Linked DNA regions of Homo sapiens: all the other regions are reported to be linked to region 1. The links are microRNA targets in miRTarBase. Many come from high-throughput screens and were not tested one by one. Region 1 holds a microRNA gene; each other region holds the end of a gene's coding sequence.

Region 1 (7,192 bases):
GTCCGCACTTCCTGCCCAGTGGGAGCAGGCACCTGGCGTGGGCTCCAGCTGAGGTGTGCACGCGGGCGGGTGGGGTCCAGCCCAGAGTGTGGTCTTTATGTAAATCAGGGTGGAGCTCAGGTGCACTGGCTCACACATGTTAATCTGAGTGCTTTGGGAGGCCAAGGTGGGAGGCTGGCTTGAGCCCAGGAATTCGAGACTGCAGTGAGCTGTGATCACACCACTGTACCCCAGCCTGGATGAGAGTGAGACCCTCAAAAAAAAAAATCAATAGATCAGGGCTGCGCCCCAGGTCTTCTACCTCGGGGGTGGGTGATAGGCTCGTCCAGCTGGTGGTCCCAGGACAAGCTCTCTGTCCCTCCCAGGTGTTCCATAGTCTAGGACAGTGCAGGAACTGCAGACTTGTCAAGAACTGGGGAGTGGTCCGGGCGTGGTGGCCGAGGTGGGTGGATCATCTGAGTCAGGAGTCCGAGACCAGCCTGGCCAACATGGTGAAACCCCGTCTCTACTAAAAATACAAAAATTAGCCGGGCATGGTGGTGCACGTCTGTAATCCCAGCTACCCGAGAGGCTGCGGCAGAACTGCTTGAACCCGCGGGGGGCAGAGGTTGCAGTAAGCCAAGATCGCGCCATTGCACTCCAGCCTGGGCAATAGAGTGAGACTCTGTCTCAAAAAAAAAAAAAAAAAACGGGGGGGGGGGAGTGAAAGGGAGGGAGGAAGAGGGTGAGGGTTTGGAGGGGCCCAACCAGGCCCACCTGTGGTTGCATGGATCTCTAGCCACCTGCAAAGCCAGAAGGTACCTTGAGCTGACAGGTCCGTGTTGTTCAATGGTTCTATAGGGAAAATCCTGCCCCCATGCCAGGTTGTTGATCACCCACGGTCAATGCTGGAAGGGGCAGCTGCTGCTCTGGGCCAGAAGGAGAGGCTTCCTGGCACCGTGAGGAGGCTGGCCTGGCTGCTCACAGCTCCCGGCAGAAATGCGGAGCGGGGTCCTCACTGCAGCACCCGGGCTTTTCAAAACAGTGAAGCCCTGAGTCCAAGAAGGCAAACCACAGAGCGGAGGTGGCCGTGGGGCTGCCCTGTGGGCAGAGGGGAGGCTGCGCAGGCCTAGTGGCTGCAGGAAGCTCCAGTGGCCGCCAAGAACCTCCAGGCCCATCACCACGAGGAGGGCCCCCACTGCAGCCAGGGCTTCCAGATGGGCAGAGGCGGTGGGAAGCAAGCAGGAAGCGGAGACTGGTTGGCTGTGGCCCTGACCCCTCTTCTCCTGATGGAGTGTGGGGGGCTGGGGCTGCCTGGGGTCACCCACTCAGGTCTCTCACTCCTGCCCTCCCAGGAAGTGGACAGTTCCCACAGCCTGGACCCAGAGGCCCGCAGGCACTGACCGCGGCCCGGAGGCCAAGCTACAGTGCGTTTCCCGAGGGAGGCCACGGGGCACCTGGACGAGGGCAGCTTAGGACGCTCGGCTCTCGTCTCAGGAATCCCAGGGCAGAAGTCCAGCGAGGCGGCAGGTGGCCGGCCCGTCCCCAGCCTCTCTTCCCACTGAGGAGAGATCCAAGGGCCGGCGGAGTGGTGGTGTCTGCTGCTCTGCGGGAACACGGGCACCAGGCCCAGCAGTGCATGGATGCGGCAGGCCCCGCGTGCGATGCCCTGGTCCCCACGACTGTTTCTTCCCACGCCGCGGAGTGCATTCCCTCATGCTCCCGTCCTGTGAACACGCGCTGCAGCCTCTGCCCTCCTGGGGCTCCCTGAGAGAGGGGGCACCCCTTGCTCCCATCACAGTCCTCCTGCAGCCTGGGGCCCCGCCCAGCACGCCCACCAAAGGGGAGGCCCGCTCTCCTGTCAGAGCCAGGACAGCCTCTCCAAGAACTCTTCCTGGGCCCCAGAGAGGAGCCCCCTAGGTTCGCTTCTCGCCAGCCGCTGCCCCATCTTGCGTCTCCACCCAAGGGCCCCTCGGCGCCCCCACCTGGAGCCCCCACTATCGAGATATGTCTGGCGGATACCACACACAAGGGGGCTGTAGCGGGTTGGGGAACAGGCCAACCCCTCCCAGACTGCAGGGACAGCTAGTCTCACACAGCTAAGACCAAGATGATGTAAGGAAATGAATGACAGTAAACCCAGCCCTTACCGAACCCACCTCCCGAGCAGGGAGGACCTGCAGGAAACAGAGGCTCCCATTCCTGTTCACCTCTGATCTCAGGGGCAGACACCAGCCCATCACTGCCGTCTGCTGACCACCCCTGCAGACGGCCTGGGCCTTGGATGTCCTGCTCCTCTGGGCTCCCCAGGCTGTGTGAAACGGAGGAGTGCAGGGGTCAGGACCCCTCGACTTTCTTGGGGGCAATCAGGCCGTTTGTAACGTCCTGATACAGCAGAGCTGGGGACTGGGGTTACGAAAGACACCACCAGGTGGAGCCTTCAGATGGGACCTCCCAGCAGGGCCTCCAGGCTGGGGACCTTCAGGCAGGTACCTCCAGGCTGGGGACCTTCGGGCAGGTACCTCCAGGTTGGGGACCTCCCAGCAGGGCCTCCAGGCTGGGGACCTTCAGGCAGGCACCTCCAGGCTGGGGACCTCGCAGCAGGGAACTCCAGGTTGGGAACCTCCAGGCTGGAGACATTCCAGTAGGGACCTTCTGGTTGGGGATCACCAGGTTAAGAACCTCCAGGTTGGGGACCTCCAGACTGGGGACCTCCCAGCACGGACCCCCAGGTTGGGAACCTCCAGGCTGAGGATCTCCCAGCAGGGACCTCTAGTGTGGACCTCCAGGCTGGCACCCATGGGGCAGGTTTCTTTCTTCTTCCCCAGAAGCCTTTTCATCGTGGCAGTAGGACCTGACCTTGACAGAGATGATATTGCGGATTTCAGTGACTGAACCAGAGTCGGAAGCTGAAGGGCTCTGCCCAGCCTTCCTGTCTTCATCCATTAAGTCTGATCGGCAGTGGTGGCCACCTGGGCTGCTGCTTTGACAAGATGCCAGTAGTTGGAGCTGGGACCCCAGGGAGCACTGTCCATCCACCGCACAGGAGTAGGGCTTCAGCAGCTGTCAGTCATCAATCATTTCCCCATGCTGTTGGATGGGAGAGGGACAATCTGCCAGCCCCAGTGTGACTGGCTTTGCTGCCACCGCAGTGCCCTCTGGGAACCCCGGCAGGTCGGCTGGAGGCAGGACACCACCCCCCTAACCCCTCCCTACTTGTCACCAGACAGAAACCACAGCTCACCAACAACCATACACAAACAGCGCACTAAAAGAAAGCATGCGGCAAAAATACCCGCCCAGCGAGAACTGTGCCTGGCACAGGGAAACACACTGGGATGCGCGCCCTTCCGCGGGGCGAGGCTGGGTTTTGGGGTATAAACTGAGTCCTGGGGAGCAGGAGCCTGAGGGGCACCCAGGGCAGCTCCCTCGGCCTGGGTCACAAGGTTCGATCCTCCGCGGGGGTGGCAGGAAAGCCCAAGTCCCTCGGCACACCCAGGTGACAGCGATGACGGCCCACAGGCGTGGCGCCTGGGCCACATCGGACAGGCCATGTCCTGGAGCACTCGAGGCCCCCTGGACAGGGCAACCAACCCTGAGTCCACCGGAGTCTGCTCGCAGACCACCAGGAGCCCCGCTGCACTGTTCGTGAGCCACGGTGGTGACGGCAGCTCAGGAGGGAAGGACCAGAAGCCTGGCCCCGTCCCACGAGGACAGACGCAGGCCTGCGGGGAGGCATGTCCCCACCCACGGGCGCCTCCTGGACCACGAGCTCCTCTTTCTCCTGCATCGCCTCAGACCCCACCCAGGGGTTCCAAGGTCAGGAGCCTGGTCCCACGTCCCACAGCCCTCTCATGGGGCACCCGTACGGATTCTGTTCCAATTTAAAGAAAACCTTAATCAGATTTGTCACCTCAATTATTAGAATCCCACGGCGTTAACTCACAGTAGTAAACTGCTTTTTCTGAGAAACAAGAGTTTTTTAAATTAAGCCTTTTATTTTAACGCAATCGCAGGTGACGGCCGTCGTGAGGGAACACGGGACGCCCACGTGCCCTCCACCACCTCCTCCCACGGCAACCCTCGCAGAGTAGCCAGGACCACATTCGGATCCGGACTCTGAAATGACAGTCCCACAACCAACAGCATCGATGTGGTCTTCTTAATGATCAGAAACACACAGGGGATTAATTTACTCTTATTCTGCAAAATAAACAAGCTCTCAAATTCTTTAAAGGTGAATCCCCCCCAACCGTCCTCCCTCCCCAGTTACTTCCTCCCTAGGACACCAGTGGAACATCCCATGCTCTCCCCCTTCCATGTTGATACCGAATAAAACACACTGCATCAGAAGACCCACGCATACGAGTCCAGGGGCTGCTACAAAGCGCGGCGACGTCTCCGCGGCGAGCTGGCCACTCCATGGTCCCGGCGCAGACACTGGGGCAGGCGCCGGCTCTGTCGTCGAGGCGCTCACAGGCAGGCACACGTGAGCTCCTGGAGGACAGGGAGAGCGGCCGCCCCGCCCCTGCGGAGCACAGGACGCTTCCTGCCACCCCTGCAGAGCATGGGACGCTTCCTGCCATGGTGCCGTGGCAATGGGTGGCACCTGCCTGTGGCCCCTTCTCAGAAGGACGTTTTAAACGCGTGAGGTCTGATGCACAGCCACAGGGAGACACAGACGAGCAGATGTGGGCATCCGAGTATTTACAAGGTCTGGTGGCTCCTGCAGCCGCGACACGGGCTGAGCGCAAGTGATGTGTGAGGTGTCCCCAACAGATGGCACGGGGAGCGCCCACACCCGCCACCGCGGGGTCTGCGGAAGCTCGTGTCAGCTGGAGGTTAGGGAAGACGCACAGGGGCTCATTCTCCACCCAGGTTCAAACTCCCTGAACTCACGAGACCCAGGCTGAAGACATGGACAGACTCCCAGCCCCAGCGCCCCTCTGACAGCACACCCGAGGCCTCCTGGGAACCTGGGACCCCTTGCAGGGTCCCCCGCAGGCTCCTTCCTAGGAAGGAGGTTCCTGCCCTACTCCACATTTCTCTCCATCCAACTTCCAACTCCTTCCCACTGGGCCCTGGAGAACATGACGAAGACTGTGGGGGCCTCCTCCCAGGAAACACACACACACACACACACACACACACACACACACACACACACACACACACACCAGCAACGCGCCCAGACCCCAATCCCTGGCAGCCCAACTCCTCGTTCTACAGAGAAGGGGTGAGGATCTCCAGGGGTGACTGCTCACATCTCGGCACATGTAGAAGGCAGGGCTGGAGCAGCGGCCCCTGCAGCCCAGGCCAGGGGACTGGAGGCCCTTCCACAGCAGCCCTTTCCTTTTGATACACGGTCTTGCTCTGTGGCCCAGGCTGGACTGCAGCGGCACCATCACAGTTTACTGCAGCCTCGACCTCCTGGGCTCAAGCAATCCTCCCACCTCAGCCTCCCAAGCAACCAGGACTATAGGCATGTGCCACCATGCCTGGCCAGTTTTTAAATTTTTTATAGAGATAGGACCAAGGCTGCTCTCACACTCCTGAGCTAAAGTGATCCTCCTTGCCGGCCTCCCAAAGTGCTGGGATTATAGGCATGAGTTTTCAAACTCCTGGGCCACAGCGATCCTTCCGGCCAGCCTCAAAGTGCTGGGATTATAGGTGTGAGCCCACGGTGCACAGCCCCCACTTTCTTCCTAAAAACCCTGCAGCTTGGCTGACAGTGGGACCTGCCTCCCTACTCCCGCCTGCAGGAGCTCAGAAGCCTCAGCTCAAGAGGAGCCCTTGCCAGAGACGTGGGACCAGGAATGGGCCCCACAGAGCCCTGCCCGTGGGCTTCCTAAACAGCCTGAGTTCAGCTGCACACACCAACGATGTAGGCGGGTTGCAATAAACAGCAAGAAACGGACCCATGGGACAGGAGAGACGCAGGAGCCCCAGGGGACAAGAGAGACGCAGAAGCCCCAGGTGCCTTTGGTGGCCAGTGCTGAATTTCGCAAGCAACATTAGAAACTTTTTATTTCTGCTTTTCTCTTAACCCAAGGGTGAAAATGGAAACCTGTGGTGTGGGGCAGTCTGCTGAACGCTAGGATGAGGGCGGGGAACAAGAGCCACCCTCCCCGCTGCCACCTGGCCCACAAGAGCCTTCCCAGGGGCTCTCCAGTTTCAGCCCCTCCTTGCCGAGCCAGACAGCGCTGCTGGCCTGGACGGGAGGGACACCCAGGCTGACTGAGTGGGGGAGCACTTTTTATAAAGATCAGATCAGGTTTCTGAAAACAAAAAGCCCCCAGATCCTGCGAGCGGCTATTTAGACTTGATGCACACTCCACCATTTCACAGGTATCCATTCCCCAGCGTCACACATGCCCATCCCCAGCTGGAGCACACTCTTCAGTGTGGAGGACAGAAGGAGCAGGCAGAAGACGACCCCGGGGCGCTGGGGGAGCAGGTGCGGGCTCCCACATACCTGCTCTATTCTGGTTGGAGGTGTCACAAGGGAAGGCGTGGAGATGCTGCCAATGGGGACATGCGGCAAATGCGCCCCCTTCGCCCCACACCTGTCAGCAGCTAGCAACAACTCAGTCCTGACTGCTGGAGACCCAGCCCCAGGGGCAGGCAGGTTGGGATCCGCTGCTCAGGAGGCAGCTCTGGGCCAGGGTGGAGGCCGGAGAAGCCAGGCACCTCCCCGCAGAGCTCTGCAGAGGCCAGTCTGCTAACGGCTTCATCACTGGAGTGGCGGCTGCTAAGAGCAAAGCCTGTGCTTGGTACCTCAGGGACCTAAATAAGAACCACTCCCTGTTCCAAGGATCCCAAGTGGGGGGAGGACGAGAAGCAGCTGAGCCTATAGGGCACAGGAAACTCACTGGGGTGTGGGTGCTGGGGACTTGGGTTGGGTGCTGTACTGAGCAAGCCTGTTGTGGGGGGACACTGCTGGCGGTGGGTGACGAGGTGCACAAGTCAGGTCAGGGAGGGGGACTCTGCCCTGGCACCACTGGGGCACAGGACACTGGCTCAGGTGTCAGCTGAGGACCCCCCAGTGTAGGCGAGGGGCTCACAGCCGCTGAGGCCTGTGGACACAGCTCCGTGTATTCTGAGGTCGCAGAGCACAAGAGGTTGGGGGTGTGATACGGACCGACCTCGCCCATCCAGGAGGAATGGGGCTGGTAACAGAGCTTTGTAACCCCTCAGCACCGGTAGAGGTTGC
Region 2 (7,192 bases), not on the chromosome of region 1:
ATATCTTACCAGTTAAATATTTTAACTGTCACCCTAAAGCAGGTTTATATAATGTTTTAAATTACTTGCTCCAAGAAGATAGTAAATAACTAGAACCCCAACCCTTCCAATCCCTGTGGTCCTCTTTCCACCAGATCTTTTATTAATAAAAATGGCAAGTTCTCCTTCTATCTAAAATATTAATAAATTTAAATTTATGCAATATTTTTCTTTCTCTAGTAAAATAACAAAAAATTAATACACAAAACAAGAGAGATTGCACCCCCCGCCCCCACCTCAAATTAAGATATGTTCAGCCTGGAAAACATAGTGAGACCCTTTCTCTATAAAAAATTTTTTTTTAATTAGCCAGGTGTGGTGGCATGCACCTGTAGTCCCAGCTCCTCGGTAGGTTGGGATGGGAGGATTGCTTGAGCCTGGGAGGCTGAGGCTGCAGTGAGCCATGGTCACCACTACACCGTAGCCTGGGTGACAGAGCGAGACCCTATTTTAAAAATAAAAAGTATGCTGGGCGCGGTGCCTCACACCTATAATCCCAGCACTTTGGGCGGCCGAGGCAGACAGATGACGAGGTCAGGAGTTTGAGACCAGCCTGACCAACATGGTGAAACCCCATCTCTACTAAAAATACAAAAATTAGCTGGGCGTGGTGGCACGTGCCTGTAATACCAGCTACTCAGGAGGCTGAGGCAGGAGAATTGCATGAACCCCGGAGGCGGAGGTTGCAGTGAGCCGAGATTGCACTATTGCACTCCAGCCTGGGCAACAGAGTGAGACTCTGTCTCAAAAATAAATAAATAAATAAATAAATAATAAAAATAATTAAATAAGTACATGGCACATAGTGTTTGCAATTATTATTATCATAGGAAGTTACCTCAGATACCAAATGCTATTGGATTAAGGGATAGGTGAAATTATTATGTCATATTAATAATAAAAAACATGATAGCCACTATTTAGAGAAAGCTGATGTTTAATATTTCTGTGACATCAATTCACCACTAAAACCCTTGATCTTTCTCTAAATAATAGATGTTAATTTGAGTTTAATGCATGGCTTTGAACATCTTAAGTTTATGAACTGGTACCTAAAATATCAAACTGTCCTGCTTTTGAAAAATCACTTTTATCACTATTTAAATCTCTACACAGATTCACCAGGCATGTAAACTCATCTGCAGAAAATGTAAACGTCATGTGACAGATCTAACAGGGCAAGTGGTACAGGAGGGAACCAGGCGCTACAGACTGTGTAATGAGTGTCTTGCAGAATTTGGCATAGACAGCCTCCCCATTGACTTGGAAGCTGAACAACATCTTATGTCCCCATCAGATGGAGATAAGGATTCCAGATGGCACTTGAGTGAAGATGAGAATAGATCCTATGTGGAGATTGTAGAAGATGGGTCTGCTGATCTGGTCATCCAACAGGTTGATGATAGTGAAGAAGAAGAAGAAAAAGAAATTAAGCCCAACATTAGGTAGCTGTAATGTGAACCAACAGAGCTGGCATGTCTGCAATTTACATTGACTTCCTGTATCTCTCTCTTTCTATGGTCGGAGTCTAGTTAACAAATTTATCACACTGACTTTAAAGAAATGATCTGATATAACTTGCATGCTTTCTGAACAGGCCATTGTATCCATTCTGAACTTTGTTGCCCTAAAATGTGTTGCTGCACTGGAAAGAAAGAACTAGCTTGAGTTGGCTTGATGGATGAACAATTATCCTCTTACTTTCATTACAATCCTCTTACTTTATTCCAGAGATACCTTTTTCTTTTAATATTGGAGGATCTACTTAGCAAACTTTTTTCAAAGAAAATACTTTAAATAAATTCACCACAACCAAACTTTATGTAAGACAATTTCAAGGTGTTTCAAAAACACATAACTACCAATGTTTAATTTCACAGGGAACCAGTTAAGAGCACATTTAAGGATCTGGCAACCCACCTTACTAAACAAATTAGTCTTTCTATTAATTTGAGATCTGAAACAACCTGTCATTACTCTGATATCCTGAACGTTTAAGGATTATGGAAGAAGACTAAAGTGTTTGAAATCATTCATATTTGAAATTTTTATCATTAGCTTAAAAATTACTCTCAGTATTGTTAAAAAAAAAAAAAAGTAGAGGCTGGCCAAAGATTATATACAGATATTTTCTTAAAGCAGGAAACTAATGTTGCCTAAAAGTCAAGGTAGTTTGTGAAGACAATCTGTCAATATGGTTGTCCATCTCTCTAAAGAAAAGCAGGCTGGGCGCTGTGGCTCATGCCTATAATCCCAATACTTTGGGAGGCCGAGGCAGGCGGATCACAAGGTCAGGAGTTTGAAACCAGCCTGGCCAACATGGTGAAACCTCGTCTCTACTAAAAAATACAAAATTAGCCGGGCATGGTGGCGGGTGCCTATAATCCCAGCTACTCGGGAGGCTGAGGCAGGAGAATCGATTGAACCTGGAAGGCAGAAGTTGCAGTGAGCCGAGATCACACCATTGCACTCCAGCCTGGGCAACAAGAGCGAAACTCCGTCTCAAAAAAAAAAGGAAAACAAACTAGGAGGTTCTTACCATATGTGAGTGATTTCTAACGTTTATGTAGTGCTATATTATTTATAAAGTACTCTCTCATGTATTTTCTCAGTGAGGTGGATACTATCTCCGATTTACAAATGAGGAAATTAAGGTCAGAAAGTCTGAGAGAGAAAACTGATGATTGGACAGGATCTGATTTTAAACAATCCTCTTTCAGCCTTCTCTCCCTGTATGTCTCCTGAAATGGCAAAGAATAGAAGTCAAACCTCACCAGTTGGCAGTCATTATAAAAATAAGCCAATCAGAATTAGAAAGTATGAAAGGAGGAATTGAATCATTTTCAACAACATACAATATCTTGATCTAGAGATTTTCAAATAATGCTAAGTAATGTCCCTACAGTACCTATTGGTATGTTTTTATGTCACGTTATTTATATGTAAATTTAAAGTATAAAACTATTTGAACAAATTATTCACTTAAATATGTTGAACATTTTTGCTTCTCTTGTTTATATAATATTTTCAAAACAAACTTTTCTCCTAGTATACAAAGTTTAAACTTCTCCCCTTTGGGCTGGGCCCAGTGGCTCACGCCTGTAATCCCAGCACTTTGGGAGGCTGAGGCAGGTGGATCACCGAGGTCGGGAGTTTGAGACCAGCCTGACCAACATGGAGAAACCCCGTCTCTACTAAAAATACAAAATTAGCCGGGCGTGGTGGTGCATGCCTGTAATCCCAGCTACTCAGAAGGCTGAGGCAGGAGGATAGCTTGAACCCAGGAGGCAGAGGCTGCGGTGGGCTGAGGTTGCGCCATTGCACTCCAGCCTGGGCAACAAGAGCGAAACTCCGTCTCAAAAAAAAAAAAAAAAAAAACTTCTCCCCTGCATAAATTATGAAACATTCCAAAATTACAGCTAAATTAGAGAAGCATTGTTTCAGTTCTAAAGGTAAAATCTAAATATCCGAAGTAAAGAACTGAGCTTCATAAAGGTCTCTTCTGCAAGTTATCACAGTGAAGCTTGATAGAATTTCACTGTATATGGAGAGGCTCCATCTATTTTACTGTTTTCTTTTTTGTTTTTGTTTTTTTTTCGAGACGGAGTCTCGCTCTGTCGCCCAGGCTGGAGTGCAGTGGTGCAATCTCAGCTCACTGCAAGCTCCACCTCCCGGGTTCTCGCCATTCTCCTGCCTCAGCCTCCCGAGTAGCTGGGACTTACAGGCGCCCACCACCACTCCCAGCTAATTTTTTGTATTTTTAATAGAGATGGGGTTTCACCGTGTTAGCCAGGATGGTCTCAATCTCCTGATCTCGTGATCCGCCCCCCTCGGCCTCCCAAAGTGCTGGGATTACAGGCGTGAGCCACTGCGCCCAGCCAATTTTACTGTATTTTTAAATGCCATGACATACCTCAAAATTATCCTTTTTATGTTACTATTTTCTCTTGTTCTTTCATTAATTATTGTCCTTGATACCAATTTCTAGGCTAAATTGGTTACTTTCTTTTAAAAAATTTAAAAATAGATGAATAACCACTTGTTTCATGGTACTTAATTGAGACTTTTTCAAGATTCCCCTGATGGCACATTTGCAGTTGCTTCAAGACTGGATGATGTGCATTGAGTTCTCTGTTCTCCCAACATGGCTGTTCCTAAATCAGGATTCTGGTTTTTTTGAGATGGACTCTCGCTCTGTTGTCCAAGCTGGAGTGCAGTGGCGTGATCTCGCTCACCACAACCTCTGCCTCCCGGGTTCAAGCGATTCTCCTGCCTCAGCCTCCTGAGTAGCCGGGACTACAGGCATGTGCCACCATGCCTGGCTAATTTTTGTATTTTTAGTAGAGACAGGGTTTCGCTATGTTGGCCAGGCTGGTCTCGAACTCCTGACCTCGTGATCTGCCCGCCTCAGCCTCCCAAAGTGCTGGGATTACAGGCGTGAGCCAGCACGCCCGGCCTAAATCAGGATTCTTAACAATTAAAGTGTATCTGAATGAGGAAGGAAACGCTTGTCATTCTCTAGTCTTACCCAATTAATACTGACACCTTTTGAAATTAAAACCTGATTTTTTAGTTGTTGGAGCCAGTAGGAAAAATGGCTGATTTGAACTTTTTTCCTATAAATGAAGTAGTGCTTGCATGTGTGTACTCTAATGCACTTTAGTCTATGATCTAAATGTCCTTTTATGCTATTATCTTCTGCATGCAAACTTTACATACATCAGCATGAATATCCAACATTCACTGAACACAGTGCCACCAGCACTTGTAATTGCCTTTTCAGAAATAATGCTTTCTCATAATTGTTTATAACGAGCATCAAACTATCCCCACAAAATGATCAAGTTCACCAAACTAGACAAAGAATCTGTTGTATCATTTTAACATCATAGAAGAACATTTAAGACATGTTTGTAAGTTGTAAATAATGACTCCAGTTATAGCATATATATCTAAGACGTTAGAGACCAGTTATTTTCTAGAGTGAAACTGTCTATTGATGATTGAGAAAATTGAATTCTTTGGTTTTTACATGTGGGCAAATGTTACATAGGGGTATAATCTGTTTAAATAAGCTTTATTTATGCCAAGGATTTTTTTTTTAATATCAAGACTTGGTTAGACCAAAGTTTGCTCTTGCAGGAATGCCATTTATCAGCTTCTGAATGCCCTTCTAACTCCATTACCCTCAAGAGTGTCTGGGTATAGGATGAAGCATTACAAAAAGAAAGCACCACTGCAGTCATGCCTAGTGTCTGGGAGAAACAAAATGGACTAGACCTGCAGTTTAAAATAATTTAACCCGAGAAACTCTTCAAATGAATTGTTTCCTAAAGATGCTCAAATTTAAGGGATAAACTCTAAAATCAGAGCTGCTGTGGTTAAAGTCCCCCACAAACCTTTCCCCAGACACCTCTGCAGAACTCAGGTGCACAATGTTGAAAACCATGGAATTAGACAACTTCCTGAATTCCCTTTGAGCCTTGCAGCCTCATTTCGTTACTCCTGTTACTCACGGTGCTTATAAGCAGGTAACCATATGGTCTCTTAGTGAAGCAAATCACATCCTTAGCACATGATGTTCCTTCTATGGGTATCAGATCTTAAGACTTTTTAAAATTTAGGAACAAATGTTTCAATATTATATTTTCAGTAATGCAATCAAAATAAGCATAGTTACTGTTTTCTGTACGGCTAAGTACTGCCTAATGGATGAAAGAAGTTTGGTGCTTCAATTATTTATGAGCTCAGAACTCAATTCATTAAAGTTATTTTGCCAAGTCATGCCAAGATATATTGAAATTTCCACTCATATTGGTTTTTAAAATTTTTTTTAGTCCTAAAATTAATAAGTATGGAAAATCACTAAAAGCAGTGTAGGATAAGGTGTGTTTAACTGGCCGGGCACGGTGGCTCATGCCTGTAATCCTAGCACTTTGGGAGGCCGAGGCGGGCGGATCACTTAAGGCCAGGTGTTCGAGACCATCCTGGCCAACATGGTGAAACCCCGTCTCTAGTAAAAATACAAAAAATAGCTGGGCATGATGGTGGGTGCCTGTAATCCCAGGTACTCGGGAGGCTGAGGCAGGAGAATCGCTTGAACCCGGGAGGTGGAGGTTGCAGTGGCCGAGATCGCACCACTGCACTCCAGCCTGGGTGACAGAGCGAGACTCCATCAAAAAAAAAAAAAAAAAAAAAAAAGATGTGTTTAACTGGGAAGGGTGATAATAATAGAATAATAGGTACAGGAGGACCAAACTTTAGATTATAAACCAGAAAGTTTTGTTATTTTATATAAGTGTATCAGTATTACTATTTATCATTTATATAGCATTTTATATTTGCAAAGTGTTTAATAATTTTTGTTATTCTTTACATATATATGAAATAGGACAGTTATCCCACATGAACGGTAAATAAATTGAGGCACAGAACAGTAAAAAAACCTCAGGGTCAGGCGTGGTGGCTCACACCTGTAATCCCAGCACTTTGGGAGGCCAAGGCGGGTGGATCACTTTAGGTCAAGAGTTGGAGACCAGCCTGGGGCAATATAGTGAAACCCCTTCTCTACTAAAAATACAAAAATTAGCCAGGCATGGTGGTGGGCACCTGTAATCCCAGCTACTCTGGGGGCTGAGACAGGAGAATTGCTTGAACTCAGGAGGCGGAGGTTGCAGTGAGCCAAGATCACGCTACTGCACTCCAGGCTGGGTGACAGAGCGAGACTCCACCTCAAAAAAAAAAAAAAAAAAAAAAAAAAGAACCTAAGACAACCCAGTGAAATGGTAGCAAAAAATAGGAAATATAATGATCACATTTTCTGAATCCTAGACCATCAGCCTAATTCACTGAGGTGTGTTGTGTATCACTCTATTTTATAGATGATTTTATATAAGTAACAGTGGATTGTTTTAAAGCTGACGTCATTGTATGTGGATACATTCTATATGGAATAAATGTTATGTAAAGGATGTGACTTTAGTTATGTCACAGGATCCTTAGGGTGTTGCTTTGCCACCAGCCAGAAACCTCTTGGCCGGTGGCTCCTCTGCTTGGGTTTTGCTTGTGCCTGCTGGGCTCATTCCACCCATGTGGACTGGCAGGCTGTGGTCCACTGGTGGTACCAGCCTGGATCTCATGCCTGCCGAGGGTG
Region 3 (7,192 bases), not on the chromosome of region 1:
CCTCACTTCAAGGAGGGAAGAGCATCCCCATGCCTCAGCGTTTGGGGATTGTAGGGAGATGAGAGTCCTTCAGGTGGGACTAGTTCCCGCCATGACCCCACTGCTGGCCAGTGGCCTGAAACGCATCTGACCACTTCTCAGGTTCATGGGTGTTGAGGAGGAGCCCTGTGGAATCAACCCTGTCTGCCTCCTCTTATCCTGCCACTCCTCTTGCTCTGTCTGGATGACTGCCCTTGTTTTTCAAGGGAATGTTCCCTGTCTTCCTCAGCCAGGATTTTTTCTGAACTTGACATCTCCGTTTGTTCAGGGGGCAATCATTGGGCACTTCACTGTGCTGGTCCTTGCATTCTCATGGAGATGCAGAGATTAAAAATTAGTATCTTGTCCACATACTGCCCAGAGTTAGCAAGGATTGCTTTTCTGTGGATTTGTCTCAGGTCGGGCACAGTGGGGGTAGGGTCCTTCTCGAACCTTTTCCTAGCCTAAAGGTTCCAGCTGAATCTTCCCAGGCAGGGCTGAAACAGGAACCATTTTAGGCTTTGCTGCAACCCATGGTCAGTTCTCCAAGAAAAGTGAAGAGGGTTCCACCTGGGGCAGCCCTCAAGGGCTCAGAGGGCCAAAACACACGTACAACATGTTGAGACACTGAGTTTGTGCGATCCCCACACATCTCAGCAGTGAGTATTTCTGCCTCATTTTACCGATGAGGAACCTGAGCTTCAAAGGGAAGAGGTGACAGCTCAGGACCACACAGCTGTAGGTAGGAGGCAGGAAAATAGGGTCTGAGTGCAGGGAACATAGGCTGATTCACACTTCAGTTATGATAGGAAATACCTTCTCCATAGGACATAGGCCAAGCAAATGACTTTGTAACTTCATCCTCTCCATCTGCATAACGTGTGCCCCAAGTAACCAATGGAATCACCTAGAGGGTGTTTAAACTCTCAGAAGTTCTGTAACAGGCTCTCCATCTACATAACGTGTGCCCCAAGTAACCAATGGAATCACCTAGAGGGTATTTAAACTCTCTGAAGTTCTGTAACAGGGCTTTTGTGCTCCTATGCTCAGGCTCACCCCCACACTGTGGAGTGTACTTTCATTTTCAATAAATCCCTTCATTCCTTCTTTGCTCTCTGTGTGTGTTTTGTCCAATTCTTTATTTAAGACGCCAAGAACCTGGACATCCTCCGCTGTTAACAGTAGGACGCATCAACTCCTTAGAGTTGGGGCAGCCAGCATAAAAGGAGGCTGACCTCAGCCCGCTTCATTTACTGCAACGTGAGGAATGGATTCTTTGTTGGCAATATTTTAGATTGAGCTTTTTTTCTCATTATAATACATGCTTAGTAAACAGAGTGGGAATAAATATGGTACATGCTCCTCCTTATAGGAATTTTTTTCCTAACTCTTTGTATGAAGTGGTTTTGTGTTCTTCAACTTTATTGTGAGGATTATGCAGATAGTTTGCACAGTTGACTAGTTATCTGAGGGGAGCATATTTTGGATGTGGGCTATTTTCTGCATTGTGGGTGTTGTATTCCCTCCACACTGGAATTTTTCTGTTTGCTCATTCATTTGGAACAAGGAGAGGTTTATCTGGGCCTGGCTGGATGGGTGGGTGGGTGGTAGTGATCTCCTTAGCACTCTGCCTGTGCCTGTTAAAAGCCCCTCGGATCTGTGCTGGGCCTGGCCACTCTGTGGACACCCTTGCCAAGCTCCACCTTTAGCTGGCATGTCCGTGCTCTTGGGCTTCTCTCTGACCAGGTGATTATTCCGAGAGATGGGGGGTGGGGGGGAGCGGAGACTAACAGCTGACATCAGATTCCTCTTAGTAAAAGGACAGTCTTTGTTAGGAAAAACATCTTGGTGGGTGCTTGAGTAAGAGCCCTGAGGGCATGGCTAGTTGAGGTGGCTTAGCTTGCAGGATGTGAAGGTCTGATGGGAAGGGAAGAGAGATGTGGGGGAGAAAATGGCTGAAGAAATGAGGCTGAGTTGCGGGGTGGGGGCAGATGAAGGGCCATGGAGGGGACCCCTGGAGGGTAGAATGCAGGCAATGTTGAGAATGAGGATGCCTTGATTGACTGGAACTTATTTTTTTTTTTTTTTTACTCTCCACGACCTAATATCCCCAAGTGCATTTTCTGTTCCTATAACAATACCACGGACTGGGTAATTTATAATGAAAATAAATGTATTTCTTATAGTTCTGGAGGCTGGGAAGTCCAAGGGCGAGGGGCTGGCATCTGGTAAAGGCCTTCTTGCCACACCATTCCATGGGGGAAGATGGAAGAGCAAGAGGACACACAGCAAGAGACAGCTAAATTCATTTTTACAACACATGCTCATGATAACGAACCCACTCTGATAATGACATTAATGCATTCATCAAGGCAGAACCCTCATGGCCTAATCGCTTCTTAATGGTTCCACCTCTTAATACCATCACAATGGCAATTAAATTTCAACATGAATTTTGGAGGGAACATCCAAACCAGAGCACTGTTGACTGAGTTTTCATTTTTTATTTTAGTAATTGCTTTTTAAAAAATTTCCAGGGTCTCTGACTGGTTCTTTTTTATAAACTACCTGTTCTTGTTTCATAAGTGCCTCTTCATATGTTATGGTTTATTTCAAAAGTCGTCTTTAGGTCTGAGATTTTGATTATATGTGTTCTAAAGTCCTTTTCTGATTTTTCTGTTGCCTCTGTCTCAGGTGTAAGTTTGGGTTGAGTGGCCTGTTTTCCTTCACACTGTGTTGCTGCCCTGGGCAGGTGATTCTCAGTTGTGCCTTACCTTTACATCTGGAGTTTCCTAATGTTCTGTGCAAAGCATCTGGCCTTAGGAGAGAAACACCACCAATAAGTCCCAGTTAGAGTAGGGATGGCAGAGAAACACTCTGGGAGACAAGTCTGGACTGAACCTGTCATGGCCTGAGGGACTTAGAAAACCTTATTTGGACCTCCAGGGCCTAGAAATTTGCATGGGTCTCCTTCACTGTTTTTTCAGGCTTCAGCTTTCTAATCTATCTCTGTAGAAACCAGTCTTTCATCACGCTTCTTTTCCCTTTTTGAACATCATCTCCTACCTGCCTGACTAGGCCCTAATCCCCAAAATGCAGATCTCTCTCACATTCTGGCCTCAGCTCCGTCGTTGTCATTAGTGCTGTTTGCCATCTGCCCCCGCTTTTGTGCATATGGTGGGGTTGCAGCCCCTGTGGTTGTAGGCCCCTTAGAACTTCCACTGCCAGTGTGAGCCCCTCAACAGCTCTCTTATCCCTGGCAAGGTGCCTGGAAACATTTGAGATCTCTGTTCATCGGTACGGGTCCGAGAGTGGTCACATTGAAGAGAATCCCCCCTTCCCCTGCCAGCCTGAGGTGGGCCTGCAGCATGAGAAAGCTTTGTTGTGTGAGACGTCTGCGCTTCATAGTTGTGTGGCTGGAGCATAACGTGGCCTAATAGAGAAGCTGGCCGCTAGGAGAGGGGTGCTGTGCTAATAAAACGTGCGACCTGCCAGGATTTGGAATGTGGGCAGGCTGTTAGGTGGGGCAAAACATTTGGTAAAGCTCAACTGGGATGACTCATGAGGCAGACCGTGAGCTAAGTGTGCGTATCTAGTGGAGAGGTTGGGAAACAACACTGGCCTGAGTATCGGCCGGAGGCTGCATTGGACAAGGGACTGCAGGGAAGCGACGAGCTAAAAAAAAATTCTGCACTTGCAAGCTGGGTGGAAGAGGAACAAAGGTCAGGAACACAAGGACTTAGGGCTGAAAGAGCCCTCCTGTGTACCCCACGGGCGGGCACAGAGCCAAGACAGATTGTGGTGAGGGTGCCATCCTGGATCCAGATGCCCTCCTGCCCCCAGGGTCATGACGCTGGGCACTGCTGCTGAGTTTCCCAAAGCCAGGTGTCAGGCACAGGTGCGCAGCTCAGCAGCGTCCGGAGGTGGCGCTGTGGGCGTGGCTGTAGGCACGTGGAGTGGAGTCACCCGCAGACCACAGAGTCATTTCGAGAGCTGAATTGCAAAAGAAAGAAGAGCCCAGGATGAAAGTCTGTGACTGCTGGGACTTGAAAACAACCTTGGCGGGGAAGAGGCTGAGAAAGCAGTTCTGCCACTGAGCAGGGCTCCTTTGAGGACACCATCAAGCATGGTTAAGAAACAGGAAAGGGGTCCTCCCAAGGCTGGAGCCCCAGGCCACAGAGAACATGACTTGGGGGAGTGGGGTGTCCACTCCCAGGCAGGGGCCCTAGCTGTGCCTGCCTGGCAAGACTTTAGATGGCCATGCAGCAGGGGCTGCCAGGTGCCCTCCATACCCGCTTTCACAGGGGTTACTGCAGTCATCCTATCCCTGGGTGTGAGGGGCAGTGGCAGTCTTCTAGTTCCTAGGTCTCTGGATGGGGTGGCGCCTCCCCCAGACCTGATGTGAAGAAGGTACATGAAGCAACACATGTAGAGACGGCCCCAGACCCTAGACCAGAGTTGCCACCGCCACTGGAGGGGACTCATATGTCCTTGGGAGGGGAGGGGAGGGGCGGGGCATCCAGAACAGGAAGGAGGGTGAGTGGGACATTTGGTGACTGGGGACTGGACAGTGATGGTATCAGGGTTATTTGCCCAGCACCTCCTGCCCTCCCCACTTCCTGGCTGCCATGTGTGGAGTGGGGCTGTGACTGGGCCTGGCCAGCGGGTTGGGAGAAGAGACGTGCTGCTTCTGGGCCACGGCATGTTGGCCAGGTGTGCGTGGCACTGAGATGGTGGCGCCACATCCTTGGGGACTGTGAAGGGCAGCGACACCTATCGCCTGGGAAAATGGAAATCTCAGTTCTCCAAAACAAAACATGCCTGTCACCTTGTACCCATCTTGGGAAAGGATCACCACTGAGGCCGGGATTTGGCTTAAGCCACAGGTGAAGGCCCAGAGTGAAGGTGACACATGGCTTTCCTGTGACATCCAGAGGCTACTCAGGCCCAGGGGGTCCAGCCAAGGGGCTGGGCAGGATTCGGGGAGCCTGCTCTCGGGCTTATGTATCAGAGGAGGGGGCCACACCCAGCTCCTGACCAGCTCCAGGCCCCAAGTCCCGGCAGGCCAGCCCACCCTACACAGCCAGGAAGATGCAGAGGACAAGAGTCGCGAGAAAGAGCGCAGGAGATCAGGTTTGCAGAGTGGAAGTTTAATGGGACCATCACCGTGATACCCCATCACAGCAGTCCCAGGCTGGAGGCCCCAGGCTCTGGCCGCCTCTCCCAGCATGGTGGGCCTGGAGAGAGCACCAGCACCACCTCCCACTTTCCCTGGGGTATTGCTTTGCCCCTGTGCCTCCCACCCCAGGAAGCTACAAGAGACAGGCTGTCCTGTCCCCACACTCTCCCTGGGTCCTGGGACTCCCTGTTCTGAGGGGCTAAGGTTGCCTGGGGCCAGAGGGCCCTCCCCAGGGACAACCATCCTCTCCCTGTGTCCCCTGCCCCCCACACTGAGGGAATGTCTGTGTCCTTGTTCCTCTGCCAGGGGCCAACTGAGGCTGCCAACCCCAGGGGCGGGGTGCAGGGCTGTGCGGGGAGGGTGGCTCAGATCCCTGCAAGGAGGCGTGCTGCAGGGACAGCACAGCCTGGGCCCCCGGCAGACATTAAGGCACAGTGTGGCGGTCACCATAGGGCTGCTGGGGCCCTTGCCCCGGGGCGGCACCTGGCAGGTGCTGGCATCCGGGGCTAGGCACAGCTGTCAGTGTTGAGACAGGAGGCATGGTGTGTGCGGGCTGGCCCCAGGGCCTGCAGTGCAAGAGAGCTGGGAGTGGGGAGGCCAGGTCCACAGGTCTCTGCCAGACACAAGGAGGTCCCTCTCCCCATTCTCCCTGCCTGGGAGAGCCCAGGGGAGGGGCTTGTGGGCCTGGGCAGAGCTCATGGCCAGAGCCGAGACGCAGTCATGGCAGGCCTGGCCCACAGAAGGCACAATTGTGGTGTCTGGGAGGTCGAGGGTCAGCCCGCCAACAGGGCTAGGCAGACACATTGACGTCCCTGAGAGAGATGGCACTGCTGGGGGCCTCGTCCCCAAGCAGCAGGGCCTGTGCGTCCGAGTCTGTGTCTGCTTCAGCCTTGCCCAGCTCCGTGCTGGGCTCTGAGGCGGGCTCTGTGCTGGAGCCCAGGCCCTGGGACAGGATCTGCTGGATGGCTCTGCGCAGGTTGGGGTGCAGCCGGCCCTGCGTCTGGTAGAAGACCTCCAGCGCGAAGGACTTGAGGGCACCGGTGCAGAGGTCCTCGTACAGCGGGATGGTGTACATGCGTGACATCTGCAGGAGGGGCACTCGGTCACACTGGTGGGCTCCCCAGGCCCCTCGAGCCAGCCCACCCTGCCAGCCCGGCCAGGCGGCCCTCCTGCCCCTGGCTTCCCAGCTTCATCATTAGGGCTGTGGCCTGGACTCCGGTGGCCAGGAGGCCTACCATTAGCCTCCCACCTCCACCCTGCCCTTCCAGGCCAACCATGGAGGCCCCATCTCCAGGGAACCTGGGCTGGAGGGAGCACATACAGGGAGCAGGGCAGCCAGGGCCCACGGGCCTGAGGGCTCTGGCCTCCCTCTGAGGAGCTGGGACGTCCCCTCTGCCCAGACCAGGACGCTGAAGGCCCAGGGCCCAGCAGGCTGTGGTGGCCTGGACCCTAAACTCCTGCTCCCAGCTGGTCCCTTCCACAGTTTCTCCAAGAACTGGTGGAGTCCAGGCTGCCCTCTGGTACCTGCACCCGGTGCATGCCCCCACTCCCAACAGACCCCTACGTCTTCCCCGCCCCATTCTCCAGAATGTGCCTGGCCTGCCCCAAGGGCTCAGACTAGGGAGTCGGGTGGGACTCCCAGTCCGCACGGCTAGGCCGTTCCAGGCTGGCCCCCTGGGCAGGTGACCGCACCTGGCTCTCCAGGAAGCGCCGCACCCTGTGGAGGTCAGGATAGTAGTCGTTGCGGACCACAATCTGCAGCCAGCGGATGCGGATCTCAGCGTTCATCGAGTCCAGCAGGGAGGAGTAGCACTTGGACAGGCTCATCACCACCTCTGCAGCGCAGGGGGCAGGTCAGGGCTGGGCCGCTGTTGCACCCCAGCCCCTGGGCCGCCCCCATCAGCTGCAGGGACTCACCCTGCGGCAGCGGGGACCCATCCAGGAGCCGGTCCAGGAAGAGTGCTGTCTGGAAGGTCCTCCACTTGGAGATGTCAA

Evidence for each region. Region 1 holds the annotated microRNA hsa-miR-339-5p (UCCCUGUCCUCCAGGAGCUCACG, at 4,468-4,490, opposite strand). A microRNA usually pairs through its seed, bases 2 to 8, with sites in the 3' UTR of a target mRNA and lowers its output. Matches are read on the target gene's strand: a 7mer-m8 pairs with bases 2 to 8, a 7mer-A1 pairs with bases 2 to 7 and ends in A, and an 8mer does both.
Region 2: miRTarBase lists ZBTB8A as a target of hsa-miR-339-5p. Seed matches in the 3' UTR shown: 7mer-A1 at 1,916-1,922 and 7mer-m8 at 4,385-4,391.
Region 3: miRTarBase lists RNPEPL1 as a target of hsa-miR-339-5p. Seed matches in the 3' UTR shown: 7mer-A1 at 5,445-5,451 and 7mer-A1 at 5,381-5,387.

Annotation. Positions count from the first base shown.
Region 1 is chr7:1,018,523-1,025,714 of GRCh38, forward strand. MIR339 (microRNA 339) reads right to left here and starts at 4,504; the gene lies at 4,411-4,504. All of the region lies in intron 2 of CHLSN (cholesin), which reads right to left. RefSeq lists an enhancer at 4,615-5,172.
Region 2 is chr1:32,598,932-32,606,123 of GRCh38, forward strand. It overlaps ZBTB8A (zinc finger and BTB domain containing 8A), which reads left to right. Exons shown (of 5, transcript NM_001040441.3): 5 at 1,156-7,010. The coding sequence ends at 1,488. Among named protein-coding and RNA genes, the nearest start is that of ZBTB8OS, 48 kb to the right of the region's middle.
Region 3 is chr2:240,576,688-240,583,879 of GRCh38, reverse strand. RNPEPL1 (arginyl aminopeptidase like 1) reads right to left here. Exons shown (of 11, transcript NM_018226.6): 9 at 7,115-7,192; 10 at 6,890-7,032; 11 at 2,508-6,281. The coding sequence ends at 5,988. CAPN10-DT (CAPN10 divergent transcript) reads left to right here. Exons shown (of 1, transcript NR_103792.1): 1 at 1-1,130. Among named protein-coding and RNA genes, the nearest start is that of CAPN10-DT, 6.0 kb to the left of the region's middle. RefSeq lists enhancers at 3,757-3,876, 4,374-4,668.